Homo sapiens: one gene and its partners. The protein of the gene in region 1 interacts with the protein of each later gene in a pairwise test. Each region holds a gene or a part of one and is shown in the gene's direction. Other genes may lie near its edges. The genes, in order: MPP3, MDH1, SCN2A, QTGAL and HSH2D.

Evidence for each region.
Region 2: the proteins of MPP3 (region 1) and MDH1 interact in a two-hybrid assay, tested with the Homo sapiens proteins (one large-scale study listed by BioGRID and IntAct).
Region 3: the proteins of MPP3 (region 1) and SCN2A interact in a two-hybrid assay, tested with the Homo sapiens proteins (one large-scale study listed by IntAct).
Region 4: the proteins of MPP3 (region 1) and QTGAL interact in a two-hybrid assay, tested with the Homo sapiens proteins (one large-scale study listed by IntAct).
Region 5: the proteins of MPP3 (region 1) and HSH2D interact in a two-hybrid assay, tested with the Homo sapiens proteins (one large-scale study listed by BioGRID and IntAct).

What each region holds. Positions count from the first base shown.
Region 1 is NC_000017.11:43,826,513-43,830,461, reverse strand, and holds part of MPP3 (MAGUK p55 subfamily member 3), read left to right. Parts: intron 1-330; coding exon of another isoform or gene 331-354; coding exon 355-435; intron 436-670; coding exon 671-808; intron 809-2,629; coding exon 2,630-2,711; intron 2,712-3,949. UniProt on the Homo sapiens protein: Participates in cell spreading through the phosphoinositide-3-kinase (PI3K) pathway by connecting CADM1 to DLG1 and the regulatory subunit of phosphoinositide-3-kinase (PI3K). Stabilizes HTR2C at the plasma membrane and prevents its desensitization.
Region 2 is NC_000002.12:63,591,841-63,595,789, forward strand, and holds part of MDH1 (malate dehydrogenase, cytoplasmic), read left to right. Parts: intron 1-2,647; coding exon 2,648-2,746; intron 2,747-3,582; coding exon 3,583-3,679; intron 3,680-3,949. UniProt on the Homo sapiens protein: Catalyzes the reduction of aromatic alpha-keto acids in the presence of NADH. Plays essential roles in the malate-aspartate shuttle and the tricarboxylic acid cycle, important in mitochondrial NADH supply for oxidative phosphorylation.
Region 3 is NC_000002.12:165,245,704-165,249,652, forward strand, and holds part of SCN2A (sodium channel protein type 2 subunit alpha), read left to right. Parts: intron 1-3,949. UniProt on the Homo sapiens protein: Mediates the voltage-dependent sodium ion permeability of excitable membranes.
Region 4 is NC_000017.11:82,950,359-82,954,307, reverse strand, and holds part of QTGAL (queuosine-tRNA galactosyltransferase), read left to right. Parts: intron 1-3,949.
Region 5 is NC_000019.10:16,146,499-16,150,447, forward strand, and holds part of HSH2D (hematopoietic SH2 domain-containing protein), read left to right. Parts: intron 1-2,225; 5' UTR 2,226-2,252; coding exon 2,253-2,377; intron 2,378-3,949. UniProt on the Homo sapiens protein: May be a modulator of the apoptotic response through its ability to affect mitochondrial stability. Adapter protein involved in tyrosine kinase and CD28 signaling. Seems to affect CD28-mediated activation of the RE/AP element of the interleukin-2 promoter.

The sequences.
Region 1 (3,949 bases):
GCTCTGTGACTTCGGGCAAAATGTTTAATCTCTTTGAGTCTCAGGATTCTCATCTGTAAAATGGCAAAGTAACAAGACCCTCTGCATCAAGTTGGTTGCGAGGGTTCAGTGAGAAGATCCACATAAAGCAGAAAGCACGTAGGGCTTAAAACGGTGGCTCCTTGGAGGATGGCCCCATAGAGCTGCTCCTGACCCCTGGTGTGATGTTCCCAGGATCATCGTCGTCGGGTGGTTGAGGGTCTGGTGTGCCCCTGGGGGCTGCAGCTGGGTGGGCCCTTCCAAAGAGGAAGGACCCAGCAGATATGGGGCAGGGGCACCTCTAGCCATCAGTGGCGCCTGTCTCATTCTCTGCAGGTGATGGAGGAGTTGCAGGCCGCCTCCGTGCACAGTGATGAGAGGGAGCTGCTCCAGCTGCTGTCCACCCCGCACCTGAGGGTAGTCACACAGAGCCCCTGCCCAGCCATGCCTCTGGGTCTCCTGGGATGGGGGCGGAGGGAGCTCTCCTAATGAGGCTGAGGAGTGGAGACTGAGGGAGCGATCCTCAGCACTAGTGTCTGGGCAGTTGTCTCTCTGGCATGGCGTCTGCCACCCTCCATACCACCGGCCAGCTGCGGCCTGCTGACCCTGTGAGCGGCGGGCCAGCCTTCCTTTTCTCTGGCTTTCCCGGCAGGCTGTGCTCATGGTACATGACACGGTTGCCCAGAAGAATTTTGACCCCGTTCTCCCGCCTCTGCCTGACAATATCGATGAGGATTTTGATGAGGAATCGGTGAAGATCGTCCGCTTGGTGAAGAACAAGGAACCCCTGGTAGGTGCTGCTGCCTGCCCCTCTCTAACCCACTCTTCCCCTGCCTCTCACCCCCACCCAGAACACTGGACAAGATCCTCCCCGAAGTCTTCAGAGTGAGTGACGGCAGCTTTGCCTGCGCTGCTGCTCATCCCTGTGGTGCCTCTGTGTGCAGGGCACCCCTTTCTCTAGGTGGATACAGCCCCTCTCAACTGTGGCCAACACCCTTTGTGTAGTTAATAACCTGCACAATTGTACAGGGTGACCCTGATCATGCTTTAAGCCAGAAATGGACAAACTACAGCCCAAGGGCCAAAACCAGCCCACAGCTTATTTTTTAAAATAAAGCTTTTTTGGAGCACAACCAGGCCCATTCACTTACAGATTGGCTGTGGCTGCCTTTATAGTGCGATGGCAGAGTTGAGTCGTTGTGACAGAGACTGTGTGGCTGGCCTCAAATATTTACATGTGGCCCCTTATAGAAAACGTGTGACAATGCCTGCTCTGAATGTTGAGGAAGCACAGGGCATTCCTCTCCCCAGCAGACAGACTGCTATCACTTTGGTCCTGGTTCAGCATTGATTTACCGAGCAAAGGGACAGCGTTGTTTATGAGATGCTCAGAAGTGGTGGAAGCCCAGAGAATTGAGATTGGCTCCAGAGGATCCCACAGCTGGCATTCTCTATTTCCAACTTTCCCCAAATGACCTCCGACGAGCCTCTTCTGCAAACAGACGAGGATCTCTCCTCTGCCTCTGTTTCCTCACTTGTAAAATGGAGTGGCCATCCATTGATTTAGCAAACACATTGTGAGCCCTCCTATCCAGGCTCTGTATTGGGTGCTGGCGGTTCAGAGCTGAATAAATGATGGATAGCGATGCTGGAAAGTTCTCAGTTCTGGGGGGCTAGAAGTCCTGAGGTTCTTAGCTGATGGCCTCTCTTTCTAGCAATAATTATCTTACGTACTTCAAATAGATGGCACAGATGATGTTAACAATAAGTGTGCAAATGTGTTTGCAGTTACAGCCACTAATAAGTGGTTAACATATGTTGAGTGCTTACTGTGTACTAAGTGCCTTGAGTGGAATCCTTGCAACAACACTGTGAGTTAAATGCTGTCCCACATCTCACAGGAAACAGGCTTGGAGAGGATAAGAGATTTCCTTGTTAAGTCCACATGCTTTTTGTAAACGGCAGAACTGTGTTCACACCCAAGGCTGTCCAGCCCTAGAGCTTAGCTCTTAAGCTTTCTGCCGTCCTGCTGCAGTCCGGCCTGTGTGGTGCAGGAAATCGAGGGCTCGTTAGTGCCTTTCTCATCCTAAGTGTCATCTCTGCTGTGCTTCATGGGCCAAGTCCTGGTCCCGAAGCCCTGGCTGGGGTGCATAATTGGTTTCCCTCAGCAGCAGCAGAAGGCCCGGTAACCCTGTGATTGGGTAGAGGCAGGGTGAGAATTAGCTGGCACGTGTCATCCTCATTATTAAATGTCTTTGCAAGTGGTAGGAACTGTGATATGAGAGAGATGTGATGGAGAACTTACTGGATTTGGCATCACAAAAAGCTTTCCCCTTTACCAGCTGGGTGACCTTGAGGATATTTAACTTCTCTGAGCCCCAGTCCCTCATCTAAAATGTTGCAGCATTATTGTGCCTTGTAAACTGTACAGTGCAGGGCTATATTAATGGGGGATGTTGGTTTTGTTTTGTCTTCAGCATTGGGAAGGTCCCCACTGATCTCTCTGGACTGTCAGAGGGAGGGACTGGGGAGGCTGTGTTGGGTCCAGAGAGTAGGGGTCTGAGGTTTGGAGCTGCTGCTTAAGAACCTGTCTCTTCTGTCTCGGGTTCAGGGTGCCACCATCCGGCGGGACGAGCACTCAGGGGCTGTTGTGGTGGCCAGGATCATGCGAGGAGGCGCAGCAGACAGGAGCGGTGAGTGGCGGCAGTGCAAAGCTGGCCCAGCCCCGATCATGGCCATTGTTCCAGAGCCCTCCACCTTTGCTAATAGGTCCCCTTACCTCCCTCCTATCAGGTCACCTGTTTGGGATTTGCTTTGCTTTCTGGGGTTGTGGCTGGAATTCTCATCTCCTTCCCAAGTCAGTAGAAATTTTAATAGAAAATATAGGCCAGCTGGGCATGGTGGTGCACACCTGTAATCCCAGCACTTTAAGAGGCCGAGGCAGGCGGATCACTTGAAGCCAGGAGTTCCAGACCAGCCTAGCCAACATGGCGAAACCCCATTTCTACTAAACACACAAACCTGGGAGGCGGAGGTTGCAGTGAGCCAAGATCATGCTGCTGCACTCCAGTCTGGGCAACAGAGTGAGACTCTGTCTCAAAAAAAAAAAAAAAAGAAAAAAAAAAAAAAGCCAGGCACAGTGGCTCACGCCTGTAATCCCAGCATTTTGGGAGGCCGAGGTGGGCGGATCACCTGAGGTCGGGAGTTCGAGACCAGCCTGACCCACACAGAGAAACCCCATCTCTACTAAAAATACAAAATTAGCCAGGCTTGGTGGCACATGCCTATAATCACAGCTACTTGGGAAGGCTGAGGCAAGAGAATCGCTTGAATCTGGGAGGTGGAGGTTGCAGTGAGCCGAGATCGCGCCATTGCGCTCCCGCCTGGGCAACAAGAGTGAAATTCCGTCTCAAAAAAAAGAAAAAAAGAAAAAGAAAATATAGGCCATGCACGGGTGGCCCACACCTGTAGTCCTAGCTGTTCGGGAGGCCCAGGCAGGAAGATTGTTTGAGCCCAGGAGTTTGAGGTTGCAGTGAGCCGTGATTACACCACTACACTCTAGAGTGGGCGACGCAGTGAGACCGTCTCAAAAAAAAAAGAAAAAAAAAAAAAATATATATATATATAAATAGTCATGGAGTACTTTGGGGTGATTGAGAAAAAGCTCATGCGTTGGTTTAGTCCAAGGACTGTGACAGTTAAGAATATAGCATGGGCTTGCGGGATTACTAACTGTGGGACAGGGTTGACACCCTTCCCCACCATCCCAGGTCTTGTCAAGCTACTATTACAAAGAGAGTGTTTGTGCCCCAGATTCGTTTGGGTAGAAAGGTTGAGAATCACCGGTGTGTGGAAGAGCTACTAAGCTGGGAGACAAACCTCCTGGTATAGGGCGATGTTACCCCCAAAGTCTGGGGGGTCATCGTTGCAG
Region 2 (3,949 bases), on another chromosome or scaffold:
TGTTCTTAGTGCTTTGTGTGTTAACTCTTTTAATCCTTAAAACTACTCTGTTTGTTAGGTAATTGCTATTATTATCTCCATTTTACTATGGGGAAATAATACAGAAAGGTTAAGTAACTTGTCCTAGAGCATGCAGTTAATGAGTTGTGGAGCCAGGACTTGAACACAGAAAGTCTGGCTCCAGAGTCCATCTCTTTAATTACTACTCTCTACTGCTTCTCTAGCCCCCTGTTTTAGAAAATTGGTGTATCCTTTTTGTTTCCTTCACGTGATTCACCAATGGATTCCCTGGCCTAAAATAGTACCAAGTACATGATAGGAACTTAATGATGTTTTGTTTAATGAATGAATTAAATGAGAAAACAGTTCATCAGTGGATTTATAAGGTAATATCATTAGTACTAATGACAATTTTGTTAGCTATAGTTGGAACTATTGTGGTCACTAAGTTTCCAGTTTTCTCAATACATAATATATATGAATAAAATACCTTTTGTTTTCATAGTATATATGAAAAAGTTTTTGTTTGAGACAGGATCTCACTCTGTCACCAAGGCTGAAGTGCACTCACACAGTAATGGCTCACTGTAGCCTTAACTTCCAAGGCTCAAGTGATTCTCCTACCTCAGCCTCCTGAGTGGCTGGAACTACAGCATCTGCCACCACACCCAGCTAAATTGTTTTTTTAAGAGACAGGGTTTCACTATGTAGCCCAGGCTGGTCTCGAACTCCTGGGCTCAAGTGATCCACCCGCCTTGTCCCCCCGCGCAATGCGCTGGGATTGTAGGTGTGAGCCACTGCACTCAGCCTGAAATAGCTTAAATAAATAAAATATCTTAAAAAATTTTTTAAAGCACGTTACATATGTTTTCAAACAGTTCTTATACATTTCCATCTTTTTGATAGTTTTACAGGACCCAGCTATTCCTTCAAGCAAATACCAGAGTTCCAACTACAGGACAGGTGTTGTTCTAGGCAATTGAGATACAGCAGTAAATAAAATAGACAAAGTTCCTGTCCTTAAGGATCTCGTATTCTAAAGGGAAAGGGAGTAATAATTTCTTCCTGTATTCCCTTTTCCTCACCTACTCTACTTCAAGGAAAGAAGGGAAAATGACAGAATGAAAAACGTGTAGGCCATTAAAGATTTTTCTATAAATAGTAATAAATTAGAAAAAAAAAATTGTGTAGTATGTAGTTGGCTATGATCAAATTCATTTCTCTACACCAGTTGACACTTTTTGTTTTTTTTGTTTGTTGTTTTTTGTTTTTTTTTTGAGAAGGAGTTTCGCTCTTGTTGCCCAGGCTGGAATACAATGGCACGATCTCCACTCACTCAACCTCTGCCTCCCGGGTTCAAGTGATTCACCTGCCTCAGCCTTCCAAATAGCTGGGAGATGCCTGCCACCACACCCAGCTAATTCTGTATTTTTAGTAGAGACGGGGTTTCTCCATATTGGTCAGGCTGGTCTCAAACTCCCAACCTCAGGTGATCCGCCTGCCTCAGCCTCCCAAAGTGCTGAGATTACAGGCATGAGCCACCATCCCTGGCCTGACACTTCTTTTTTGAAATTTTTTTTTTTCTTTGACTTCTATGAGTGAGTACCAAATTGCTGAGTGCTGCTAACTTTCAGAGCTTAGTGTCAGAAGCTTGAAAGAAGCCTTCGAGGCTATCCATCCTTGTTTCGTCTCAGAGACGTGACTCTCATCTGGAAGAAGGAACTTTAAGTAAAAAGAAACCAAACACTTCTGGGCTTAGTCACATCAGTGGACCATTTCTCCATGCAGGTAGGGGTAAAGGTGACAGTGGAAGTACATTTACCCAGCATTATCGGGGAAAGGAATGGTTCACCTTAACTGAATTTTTCTGTCTAACTAAACCTACCCATTACGTTTCTAAACATTATTGTTTTGTTCTTTTTAATAGATATATTTCTATCTTTTAAAATTCTGTCAGCTTAGTCTTTTTTTACTCAGAGTCATCACTTTGAATATCAGTTATCTTTGTTTCTATGTCTGTATTTTGTTCAGGAACTGTTGAAATCTCTGTTTGTATGTCTTCCCTCCTTGCTTTTAAAAATAATTTTCCCTTGGAATCAGGTTGTCAGCTGTCTGTCACTACATGTTGCTGTTGTTTCTCCCGAAATAAAAAATCTTGTTTTTCCTCCTCCAGACAAAGTTGAAGCACGATTAATTGTCTTATTTAAATGTTTTGGCTCAATGTAAATGGAAAGTTTTAGCCTCTTTCACTCTTCTTCTTGGTATGAAGATTCTATTGAGCAGATGGGAGTGGGGGCTTTGCATAATAAGGATTTGTGTGGCTCTAGTGGCTGCCAGGGTTTGGATCACCACATACTGAACACATCAACATTGTTGAGCCTATTTTAGTGGTAAAATATCCCAAAAAAGGTGGATAAGATTATGTAAGTAAATCCAGGATAACACTTTTAGCTCCCTACATGGTGAGAGTTAAATAACACCACGTAAATATGCAGCACATTCATTTTCTACTGAGCCAGATGCAAAAGGACTTTAAAATTTTACATTCACTTTTAAAGTATGTGGATTTCTTACTATAGATTAAAATCCTGGATATTTTTAAGGTACAGTAGTACTTAAAGATGTTAATGGGTCTTTTTCATTACAGTCTGAACCAATCAGAGTCCTTGTGACTGGAGCAGCTGGTCAAATTGCATATTCACTGCTGTACAGTATTGGAAATGGATCTGTCTTTGGTAAAGATCAGGTAGGAACAGGTGTCTATAAATCTTAAGTTATTAGAGTAAGAATATGGTTAATAAAAATCTGTATTTAGTTGTACACAAATTGTTAAACAGTGAAGGAATATGTAATCCCAGTAAATGTAATAGGCACATTGCTATAAATGGAAGCTACTAAGGTATTTATATGTACGCCTCCAGGCACTGAAAACACTTTGCAAATGAGAACTCTTCCATATATTGTACTCAGTTGACTTGGTGCAACCAGCAGGTGTCAGTCAATGGGAGATATCACTAATGACAGTAACTTACAGTCATGTGGGAGAGAGTTACTCAGTAAGCACTCCCTTGTTCATAAATGGCCTTTGGAACCAAAAGAGTAAGGAAATCTGCTTCCCCGCTGAAGCAGGCACTCCGACTTCCAGCAAGCCTGATTAATATACACTAAAATCCTTTTCTAAGGTATTCATTTATTCAGTTTCTTGACCCATGGATACTGAATTATTCTTTCATGTCAGATACTGTACTTAGCTTTCCATGAACTGAAATCAAATATACAGCTATTAACAATAAGAGCAAGCTATAGCATGTCACTCAGTTTAATGTTTTTTTCATATACTGTTAAAATTGAGTAGTGGTGATTCCTCTCACTGTGTCTGTTAGCAAACCAATGCTGGTTTTATAGCATCCTTCTTTCTGAAAGTGGCATAGTGCTAGATACCTGACCTCCTAAAATAATCATCATGACTAATTAATGGGAATTACATGCATGTACATACCAAATAAAAACTATGTGAAAAGACTTTCTTGTGTCTAAATGAAATAGCCTACACTAACAGATGCTGTCCTTGCTATTTGGTAGCCTATAATTCTTGTGCTGTTGGATATCACCCCCATGATGGGTGTCCTGGACGGTGTCCTAATGGAACTGCAAGACTGTGCCCTTCCCCTCCTGAAAGGTGGGTTGGGGAGTAGAGAAGGGATTTTATGGTATTTGATTTCTTACAAAATACAGGTTTTAGGTTTTTGTTAAAGGCTCTCAATTAGAAATTATTTCATAAGAGGATTTTTTTATTTTGAACTACCACTGTTTATTAACTACTTATGTATACCAAGGATAAATAAGGGTAAGAAATGAGCAACAATCAATGTCAGGTAAAGGACTATCCTTTTTTCCCCAATGTGTGTGTGTATATAATTTATTATACCAGTTAAGTGTAATATTGCAC
Region 3 (3,949 bases), on another chromosome or scaffold:
AGTTTGTTAATAATTTCTCCACAACGACAGGTATAAATCAAGATGGTTCCAGGTAAACTGGGATGCACAGTCACTCCACTTCTAAGGGTCAAGAAACTTCTACATTTAATCAGTCTATTCAATTAAATTGTTCATGATTTTGTTGCCTAAGTGTTAGAAAGTTAAAATGTGAAATGACCTATCAATTAGACAAAGGGCATTCAGCTAAGCTGCTCCAATTACTGGCCTTGATAAATCCATCAACCGAAATCTCTAATGATTCTTGTTGAATCCTTAGTTATATCACCAGGAATGATGTCACTCCAATAATGTTAAGCCTGACTTCCCAGGGAATTCAACTGTGTGCAAAAAAAAACTGTTAGTAAATTATGCTGTTATTACAAACCTAGACTCACAGCATCATAAATCTATTCAAATATAAAAGCAAAAGCAGGATAAAATATGGATTCAAATTATTTCCACATTTGGGTATGCATCTTTTAAGGAGTTTTCATGAATGTGTAATCCTTAGAAGATAGGAATTTAGCTCCAAGAACACTGGAATTTTCTCCACTGGCACTTTATACCCAAATCTTGGTAATGTCAATATGCATATGTATGGCCTCTTAACAGACTATCCTGTAAAGTAGTTAAATTATTTTCCTCCAATGATCATGTTTTTTTTACCCTTCTTCAGACATCCACTCCCATGGTTTTATCTTGAAACTCTTCATGGCCAGTAACTGTGGCCTGCCCATAATCCTTCCTTCATACATCCTACACCACCTTTCTAGCGCATTTCATCTACAACTCCAATTCATTCCTTTAATCCCACCAGGCCTCTAAATCACTGATCTCGTCATACTTTGATTATCTCTCACTAAATGTCCTCTTTCCTTTCATTAGATAAATTCCACAGTTATTCATAAAAGTCACTCCTTGTATATACATACATACCTCACAAACTCCTCCGCTCAGTGTTTTTTTGTTTGGTTGGTTTTTTGGTAACTGTCTGGCTAAATCTTCATCCTCATATTCAGTTCCCACCTTACTTCCTGCCTGCACTTTTGCAGCTGGACGCATGCAAAAGTGGGTCCTTCATGATGCCCAGCAATCATGCCACATGTCCCTAGATTGATGCCCAGCAACCATGCCACATGTCCCTGGATCACTTACTCTCCCAGGTTCTTGTACTTAGATTTCATACCCTTTCTTTTCTCCTCAAACCACCAATACCTCCTACCTTGACCTCACTCTCAGTTGACAACTTTGTTTCCTAAATCAGTGAGAAAATTGAAACAATCAGGAGAGATTTTTCCCCACAGGTTTCTATCACTGCATGTGCCTTCCTACCAGGTTCTGCACCCACATAACCTGACCTCCCACCCATTACCTTAAATCAACTATCCCTGTTTCTATCTAAAATCATTCCTGCATCTGTGCACTAGATCCTATTCTTTCTTACTTACACAAGGGCATCTCTAGAGCATTTTATTTCTCTGTCTCTCCTGCATTAGTAATTTTAGCTCTTTATTATATTTGCATACAAGCATTTTATTATTGCTCTTGTATTTGAATTTTTTTACTTCCTTCAACTATCTTTTTTTTATTTTTTGTTGTCTTTGCAATAATACTTAATGAAAGTGTTTGCTGTATTCTCTGTATCTATGACTCTCTTTCTATTCTCTTTTAAATTTACGTTAGTCAAGTTTTTACTCTTACCATTTCACCAAATCAGCTCCTGATAGAAATCTGATGACCACCCTATTGCCAAATTCATCAGTCCATCCTCAGCTTTCATCTTACTTGACCATCCAGCAATATTGGAGACAGTTCATTGCTGTCTCCCCCTTGATACACTGCCTTCCGTTGGATTTCAGGATAGCACACAATTTTGACTCTTCTCTTAGCTTATTGTTCACTCCTTCACAGTCACTTTACTCTTTACTCTGCCTTCCCAGACTTCATTATTTGGGTGTCCCTGATTCTGTCCCTGATTTTCTTTTCTTCTTTATCTACTTTCTTTTGATCCCATTGAGTTTTATGGCGTTAAATGCCATATAAATCATGATGACATCCAAATATTTACCTCCAGTTTTCTGCCAAACTGAACTTGTGTGTCTAACTGCTTATTTGGCTTGGATATCTAGAAGACACTGAAAAGTTAACATCCCTAAACTAAATTTCGGATAGTTCTTCCCAACCAACCTGCTCCAATCCTCGCTTTCCCCACCTTACTTTTTTCAGGAGATAACTCTAGTTTTCCTCATCCTCAGGCTAACAACTCTAGTATCATCCTTGATTATTCTTTTTCTCTTATATCTGACATTCAGTCCATGAGAAATTCCTGTTGATTTCAACTTCAGAATATACCCAGGATCTATGTGCTGCCACCTTCACACTGCTACCCTGCTCAAGCCACCATCAAGTTTCTCATGGATTTCTGCCTTAATTTCCTAATTGGACTTTATTCTTCTACTTCTCCTTACAATCTATTCTCAATACGGCAAGACAGAAGTAAGATTACGCCACATCCCTGCTCAAAATTCTGCAAGTGATATCCAGTTTTCTCAGGGTAAAAGGCACCTGACAATTTCCAAAAAGTCTCTATTTAGCCTGGTCTCCATCCCATTACAGTATTTCTCTGAATTTGTCTCCAGTTTTTCTTTCCCTCATTCACTTTCACTATTTCTTGAATATTGCAGGAACACTTCAATCCTTTGGGCTGTTTCCTCTGCCTAGAAACCTTTTGCCTCAGGCACTTGCATGACTAACCTCCTCACCTGTTTAAAATCTGAGCTCAAATGTCGTTTCTAAATAATACCTACTCTTAACTATCCCATTTAAAAATCTCAGCCCCCTTCCTCTAACTTCATTCTTATCGTCTCCCACATTCTTCTATACTTTCTTTTCTTTGTTATCATTTGCTTTGCTTTGTTCTTTTTTTCCTTTTCTTTCCTTTCTTTTATTTCCTTCCCTTCTAACACATCACATTATAGCATACTGTATACATTGCATTTCTCTTGTTGGTAATTTAAGCCCCAAATGGGCAGAGATTATCATCTGTTTGGTGCACTGATGTTTCACAAATGCTTAGAACACTTCCTGATCTATAGAAGAGACTAAAAATGTTTGTAGAATAAAATAATGAATCTTAGAAACTTAAATTTATTCCTTTAAGCATACTAAGGGGCACCATGCTTTCTCTTTCACTTTATTGGGCTGATTCACATTTACAAATGACCCAGTGCAATCTGCCTGATTTTTCATTCAGTATTTACACCAATAGAAATAAAATGCATATTAGTGTTATAAAATCAAACCTTAAATGACAGTAAATGTATCATTAATAGTTACTGAAGACCTTTTCCTGATATATATGACATTTAATGTTTTTCTCTTGTGACTTCATTGTTCTTTGTTTGCTTGTTCATCTTCTAGATTGTGAGCTCCTCAAAGTCAGGAACTTGGTCATCATATCTGTCTCCCAAATACCACACTCAATGTCTGGCACATAAGAAGTTTTACAAATATGCTGTTTTAGTCATAGGATGAGCATACACTTAAAATTTAATACTGGTCCTGCATATGCTGTGTCCTGAGCTTTCGCTATGTAGGTTGCTTTAATTCTTACAACCGTGTGGAGCAAAGCACTGGTCTCATTTTACAGATGTGATAAAGCTAGTTATTTTGTCCAGGACTTAATCATTGCAGTATTCTCACTGTCTAATCTCTAGTGACCATATCACAGGAAGTTAATTATGCTCTTTTTTTAAAGATAAATTGAAATAATGCTAACAATGCCAGATTTCTTGGAAATGTTTTGTTTTTAGTTTCAGTTAGAAGCACGCCTTAGCTTAGTGAATAAGGGACAATGAATGTTATTTATTTTCCTGCTCAATTCAGTTGGGAAAATTGACCTCATCGTTTTGTGTTTTCAATCCCTTAAGTGTAATAAAATTATTTACTA
Region 4 (3,949 bases), about 39 Mb from region 1:
TGTATCCTGAGACTTTGCTGAAGTTGCTTATCAGCTTAAGGAGTTTTTGGGCTGAGACAATGGGGTTTTCTAAATATACAATCATGTCATCTGCAAACAGAGACAATTTGACTTCCTCTCTTCATATCTGAATACTCTTTATTTCTTTCTCTTGCCTGATTGCCCTGGCCAGAACTTCCAATACTATGTTGAATAGGAGTGGTGAGAGGCCATCCTTGTCTTGTGCCAGTTTTCAAAGGGAATGCTTCTAGCTTTTGCCCATTCAGTATGATACTGGCTATGGGTTTGTCATAAATAGCTATTATTTTGAGATACGTTCCATCAATACCTAGTGTATTGGGAGTTTTTAGCACTAAGGGTGTTGAATTTTATTGAAGGCCTTTTCTGCATCTGTTGAGATAATCATGTGGTCTTCGTCTTTGGTTCTGTTTATGTGATGGATTATGTTTATTGATTTGCGTATATTGAACCAGCCTTGCATCCCAGGGATGAAGCTGACTTGATCATGGTGGATAAGCTTTTTGATGTGCTGCTGGATTCAGTTTGCCAGTATTTTATTGATGATTTTCACATCAGTGTTCATCAGGGGTATTGGCCTGAAATTTTTTTTGTTGTGTCTCTGCCAGGTTTTGGAATCAGGATGATGCTGGCCTCATGAGTTAGTAGTCCCTTTTTTTCTATTGTTTGGAAGTTTCAGAATGAATGGTACCAGCTCCTCTTTGTACCTCTGGTAGAATTCGGCTGTGAATCCATCTGGTCCTGAGCTTTTCTTGGTTGGTAGGGTATTAATTACTGCCTCAATTTCAGAACTTGTTATTGGTCTTTTCAGGGATTCGACTTCTTCCTGGTTTAGTCTTGGGAGGGTGTATGTGTCCAGGAATTTATCCATTTCGTCTAGATTTTCTAGTTTATTTGCATAGAGGTGTTTATAGTATTCTCTGATGGTAGCTTGTATCTCTGTGGGATCAGTGGTGACAGCCCCTTTATCTTTTTTTATTGTGTCTACTTGATTCTTCTTTTCTTTGCCTGGCTAGTGGTCTATTTTGTTAATCTTTTCAAAAAACCAGTCATTGATTTTTTTGAAGGGATTTTTGTGTCTCTATCTCCTTCAGTTCTGCTCTGATCTTGCTTGTCTTTTGCTAGCTTTTGAATTTGTTTGCTCTTGCTTCTCTAGTTCTTTTAATTGTGATGTCAGGGTGTCGATTTTAGATCTTTCCTGCTTTCTGATGTGGGCATTTAGCACTATAAATTTCCCTCTTAACACTGCTTTAGCTGTGTCCCAGGGATTCTGGTACGTTGTCTCTCTGTTCTCATTGGTTTCAAAGAACTTCGTTATTTCTGCCTTAATTTTGTTATTTACCCAGTAGTCATTCAGGAGCAGGTTGTTCAGTTTCCATGTAGTTCTGCGATTTTGGGTTTCTTAATCCTGAGTTCTAATTCGATTGCACTGTGTTCTGAAAGACTGTTAGGATTTCTGTTCTTTTGCATTTGCTGAGGAGTGTTTCACTTCCAATTATGTGGTTAATTTTAGAGTAAGTGCTGTGTGGTGCTGAGAAGAATGTATATTCTGTTGATTTAGGGTGGAGAGTTCTGTAGATGTCTATTAGGTCCGCTTGGTCCAGAGCTGCGTTCAAGTCCTGAATATCCTTGTTAATTTTCTGTCTCAAATATTGACAGTGGGGTGTTAAAGTCTCCCATTATTATTGTGTGGTTGCCTAAGTCTCTCTGTAGGTCTCTAAGAACTTGTTTTATGAATCTGGGTGCTCCTGTATTAGGTGTGTGTATATTTAGGATAGTTAGCTCTTCTTGTTGCATTGATCCCTTTACCATTAGGTAATGCCCTTTTTTGTCTTTTTTAATCTTCATTGGTTTAAAGTCTGTTTTATCAGAGACTAGGATTGCAACCCCTGCTTTTTTTGCTTTGCATTTTCTTGGTAAATAACCACGGGTGAGTGGTTGATAGAGTGAGCCAGGCCCCAAGCGGTACTGTTGGGGGGTTGTGGGGGACACACAGACATGGGCACCTGTGACAGCTAGAAGCACGCCACACCAGGGCGGGTCACGGTTCCTGCCCCGCAGAAGCCGTGAGGCCAGCGTGTGTTGGTCTACACTGCCCGGCCTGTGATGAGCTGTCACACAACTAATCCAAGTCAAGTCCAGGCAGAACAACGTGAGCAGAGCCTCTTGGGCACAGCTTTCTGGCAACTACTGGCGCACCTCATTTTATTGCACTTCATTGTGCATTTTATAAATTACAGGCGTGTGGCAGCCCCACGAGAGCAACCCCATCAGTGCCCCTCTTCCAGCAGCACGCCCACTCCACGTCTCCACGTCTCCCCATCTCCACGTGTTAATTCTCGCAATATGTCAAACTGTTACTGTATGTGTTACGGTGACCTGTGGTGTCACTACTATCTCGGGGCGCCCATATGAATCAGTGAACTTGATTGATAAAATGCGAATGTTCTGACAGCAGCTGTCGCCTCCCCGCTCCCCCCCACCCCACCCCTCCTCAGGCCTCCCTATTCCCTGAGGCACAACATTGAAATTAGGTTAACTAATAACCCCACAGTGGACTCTAAGTGTTCAAGTGAAAGGAAGAGTCGCACGTCTCTCGCTTTAAATCAAAAGCTAGAAATGTTTAAGCTTAGTGAGGAAGGCATGTCGAAAGCCACGACTGGCAGGAGAGGCCCAGCTTTCAGCCTAACGGTTAGCCAAGTTGTGAATGCAAAGGAAAAGTTATTGAAGGAAATTAAAAGTGGTCCTCCAGTGAACACACAAATGATAGTGCGGATAGGGAGAAAGTGTTAGTGGTCTGACAGATCAAACCAGCCACAACATTCCCTTAAGCCAAAGCCTAATACAGAGCGAGGTCCCAACTCTCTTCAATTCTGTGAAGGCTGAATGATGTGAGGAAGCTGTGAACATAAGTTTGAAGCTAGCAGAGGTTGGCCCACAAGGCTTAAGGAAAGAAGCCGTCTCCGTAATATGAGTGTGAGGTGAGGCAGCAGGCTCTCCAGAAGATCATGCTACGGTCACAATGGAGGTGGCCGCACTCAACCACAGATCTTCAGTGTAGAGGAAGCAACCTTGAACTGGAAGAAGACACCATGCAGGCCTTTCATAGGTAGGGAGAAGTCAATGCCTGGCTTCAGAGCTTCAAAAGACAGTCTGACTCTTTGCCGTGACTTTAAAACCCATCTATGCCTAGTGTTCCATTATTGGAACGCTAAGCATGTGCAAGTTTATATTCTGCTTAAGGTCACTGCCAAGATCTGATTGCAAAAATTCGAAAAATTGCAACCTCAGCCATAAATGGGTTAAGTTGAAGGCAGTGGTCGCCATTCTGAGAATCCTAGGATTCTTAGGAATGAGGCTAAATCTGCTCTGCCTGTGGCTCTAGAAATGGAACGGCAAGGCCCAGGTGGCAGCACATCTGTGCACAGCACGGTTGATGGAATAGTGTAAGCCCACCGTTAGGCCCAGTGCTCAGAAAAGGAGATTCCTTTCAAAATACGACTGCTCATTGACGGTGCACCTGGTCACCCAGGAGCTCTGAGGCTGATGTACGAGGGGTTCGTGTTTTTGTGCTGACACAGCATCCGTTCTGCAGACCGTGGGTCCAGGAGTCATTCCAACTTTCCAGTCTTATTGGAGAAAGACGTTTTCTAAGGCCGTAGCCGCCAAAGATAGTGATTGCTCTGATGGATCTGAGCAAAGTAATGAAAACCTTTGAATAACCGTTGTCCAAGTTACCGGGGACATTTAGGTGAGTAAACGGGAGGCTCCGAGAAGCAGTTATAAAATGCAAATTCTACACGAATCTGGTTTAGTTTTTCAGAAACAGCCTCTTCAGGATCTACTTCTCAGGGACCCCCTCTCCAACCCCGTCAGTGCCGCTCTTCCAGCAGCATGCCCACTCCACGTCTCCTTGTGGTAATTCTCGCAA
Region 5 (3,949 bases), on another chromosome or scaffold:
GACCCTGTTTCTACAAAAAAATTTTCAAAATTAGCCAGGCATGGTACTGCATGCCTGTAGTCCCAACTACTCAGGAGGTTGAAGTGGGAGGATTGCTTGAGCCTAGGAGGTTGAGGCTGCAGTGAGCATGAGCTGTGATTGCACCATTGCACACTCCAGCCTCAGGAACAGAGGGAAACCCTGTCTCAAAAAAAAAGAAAGAAAGAAATCAGGGCAACCCTTTTTGACCACCACCGTTGGGTCAGCTGTTTATTTCGTTCACTTGCCATTTTGTCATTTCCTTATTCCTCCAGGGGCCTTGATATTTACTTAATATTTAAATACTCTACTCTTTTTTTTTTTTTTGAGATGGAGTCTCACTCTGCCCCCCAGGCTGGAGTGCAATGGCGCGATCTTGGCTCACTGCAACCTCTGCCTCCTGAGTTCTAGCAATTCTCCTGCCTCAGCCTCCTGAGTAGCTGGGATTACAGGCACCCACCACCTCATCTGGCTAATTTTTGTATTTTTAGTAGAGATGGGGTTTCACCATGTTGGCCAGGCTGGCCTCGAACTCCTGACCTCAGGTGATCCACCTGCCTCAGCCTCCCAAAGTGCTGGGATTACAGGCGTGAACCACCATGCCCAGCTCTAAATACTCTATTCTTAAATTTCAAAACATTTATTTATAAAATGAACTTTCTAGTCCTTGCAATAATGGCATAAAAGGCTGGGCACAATGGCTCACACCTGTAATGCTAGCACTTTGGGAGGCTGACACAGGTGGATTTCTTGAGTCCAGGAGTTTGAGACCAATGTGGGCAGCAAGGTGAAACCCCATCTCTACAAAAATACAAAAATTAGCCAGGCGTGGTGGCACATGCCTGTGGTCCCAGCTACTTGGGGGACTGAGGTGGGAGAATCACTTGAGGGAAGAAGGTCGAGGCTGCAGTGAGCCAAGATGGGGCCACTGCACTCCAGCCTGGGTGACAGAGTGAGACCCTGTCTCAAAAAAAAAAAAAAAGAAAAAAAACACAATGGCATAAGAAGAATAAAAGGAAAAGTCCTTGAAGGCCTTTGGGGATGAGCCAATGAATGAATGTGTAAAAACTATCAGGCACATAGTAGGTGCCCAAAAAATCACAAGCCAGTGGTTTTTTTTTTGTTTTGTTTTGTTTTGTTTTGTTTTGAGACGGAGTCTCACTCTGTTGCCCAGGCTGGAGTGCAGTGGTGCAATCTCGGCTCACTGCAGCCTCCGCCTCCTGGGGTCAAGTGATTCTCGTGCCTCAGCCTCCCAAGTAGCTGTGATTATAGGCACAGGCCGCTGTGCCCAGCTCATTTTTGTATTTTTGTAGTGACAGGGTTTCACCACGTGGCCCAGGCTGGTCTTGAACTCCTGATCTCAGGTAATCCACCTGCCTTGGCCTCCCAAAGTGCTAGGATTACAGGCGTGAGCCACCACGCCCAGCCACACAAGCCAGTTTTTTGTTGTTGTTGTTTTTGAAACATGGTCTTGCTCTGTTCCCCAGGCTGGAGTGCAGTGGCACAACCACAGCTCACTGCAGCCATATCCTCCTGAGCTCAAGGGATCCTCCCACCTCAGCCTCCTGAGTAGCTGGGACTACAGGCATGCACCACCACACCCAGCTAATTTTTAAATTTTATTTTATTGATTTATTTGCTTATTTATTTTTTGAGGAGTCTCACTCTGTCGCCCAGGCTGGAGCACAGTGGCATGATCTTGGCTCACTGCAACCTCTGCCCCCCGGGTTCAAGTGATTCTCCTGCCTCAGCCTCCGGAGTAGCTGGGATTACAAGTGCCCACCACCACACCCAGCTAATTTTTGTATTTTTAGTAGAGACAGGGTTTCATGATGTTGGCCGGGCTGGTCTCAAACTCCTGACCTCAGGTGATCTACCCACCTTGGCTTCCCAAAGTGCTGAGATTACAGGCGTGAGCCACCGCACCTGGCCAAATTTTTTAATTTTTTGTAGAGATGGGGGTCTCACTATGTTGCCCAGGCTGGTCTGGAACTCCTGGGCTCAAGCAATCCTCCCACCTTGGCCTCCCAAAGTGCTGGGATTACACATGTGAGCCGTCACACCCAGCCACAAGCCAGTTTTAAGTCCATTGCTCTGTCCACCCTGGAGGACTTCTCAAAGGAGGAGGCACCACAAGCTTCAAGAATAGAGCAAAGATAAGAGGTGCATCAAGCTTGATTCTTGTCTTCCCTCCCTTCTCTACCCAGGTGACCTTCCCTCCACCCCAGGAAGCTATGACAGAGGCCGGGAAGCTGCCCCTACCGCTACCCCCACGGCTGGACTGGTTTGTGCACACCCAGATGGGCCAGCTGGCCCAAGACGGGGTCCCCGAGTGGTTCCATGGTGCAATCTCAAGAGAGTGAGGACACACCCACACCCTCCACCCTGCCCTCCCCACCCTGTCCTTGTCTGTCCCTACCCTGGGCAGCTTTTAACTGCAGAATTCTGGACTTGGCTCAGCTCAGTGTGGCAAGAGGCTAAAATGAGCTCCAGGCTCCCAGGCTTGAATCCTGCCACCTCTTTGGGCTCACTGTGTGACCTGGGGCAAGTTACTTGCTCTCTCTGAGCCTCAGCTTTCTCTATACAAGTGGCCAACAGACCAGCACTGCCAGGGACCTGGCAGCACCCCACACCTCGCCCAGGCCAAGCATTACCAATCAACGATGGCAGCATGCAGCCTCAGAATCTTTCTCTCTTTCTTTTTGAGACAGGGTCTCACTCTGTCACCCAGGCTGGAGTGCAGTGGTGCAATCTTGGCTCACTGCAACCTCTGCCTCCCGGACTCAAGTGATTCTTCCGCCTCAACTTGCTAAGTAGCTGGGATTACAGGCACATGCCACCAAGCCTGACTAATTTTTGTGTTTATAGTAGAGATAGGGTTTCACCATGTTGGCCAGGCTGGTCTCAAACTCCTGGCCTCAAGTGATTCACCCGCCTCGGCCTCCCGAAGTGCTGGGATTACAGGCGTGAGCCACCGCACCCGGCCAGAATCTTTCTGAACACAGTACTCCAAGCAGCTGCTCTCAACCCATCAGGATACAACCAATGTGCCCTTTCTTTTTTTTTCTTTTTCTATTTTTTTTTTTTGAGACAGAGTTCCGCTCCTGTTGCCCAGGCTGGTGTGTAGTGGCGCGATCTCGGCTCACTGCAGCCTCTATCTCCTGGGTTCAAGCAATCCTCCTGCCTCATGAGTAGCTGGGACTACAGGCATGCACCACCGCACCCGGCTAATATTTGTATTTTTAGTAGAGACGAGGTTTCACCATGTTGGCCAGGCTAGTCTCAAACTCCTGACCTCAAGTGATCTGCCGGCCTCGGCCTCCCAAAGTGCTGGGATTACAGGCATGAGCCACCGTGCCTGGCCCCAATGTGCCCTTTCTACCTCAGACTGTGAGCTCTGAGGATGTGGGCCCGGCTCTAACTAAATGGAGGAAAAAATATTTATGGCCACTCTCTGCATGCAGGAAATTGAGAAAATTCTGTGAAGGCCACAGAGAGGAAGTAGTATTGGTCATGGTTTCTGAGCTCTGGGGCCTTGCTGAATAACAGAAATATAACATGAGTTGCACATTGCAATTTAAAAAAATTTTAGTAGTTATATTAAAAGAAGCAGCTGGCTGCACTGGCACTTACCTTTAATCCCAGCTACTTGGAATGCTGAGGCGGGAGGATCGCTTGAGCCCAGGAGTTCAAGGCTGGCCTGGACAACATAGTGAGACTCCATCTCTAAAAGGAATTTTAGGCTGGGTGCAGTGGCTCATGCTTGTAATCCCAGCACTTTGGGAGGCCGAGGCTGGCAGACCACCTGAGGTCAGGAGTTTGAGACCAGCCTGGACAACATGGTGAAACCTTGTGTCTACTGAAAATACAAAATTAGCCAGGCGTGGTGGCGCATGCCTGTAATCCCAGCTACTCGAGAGGCTGAGGCAGC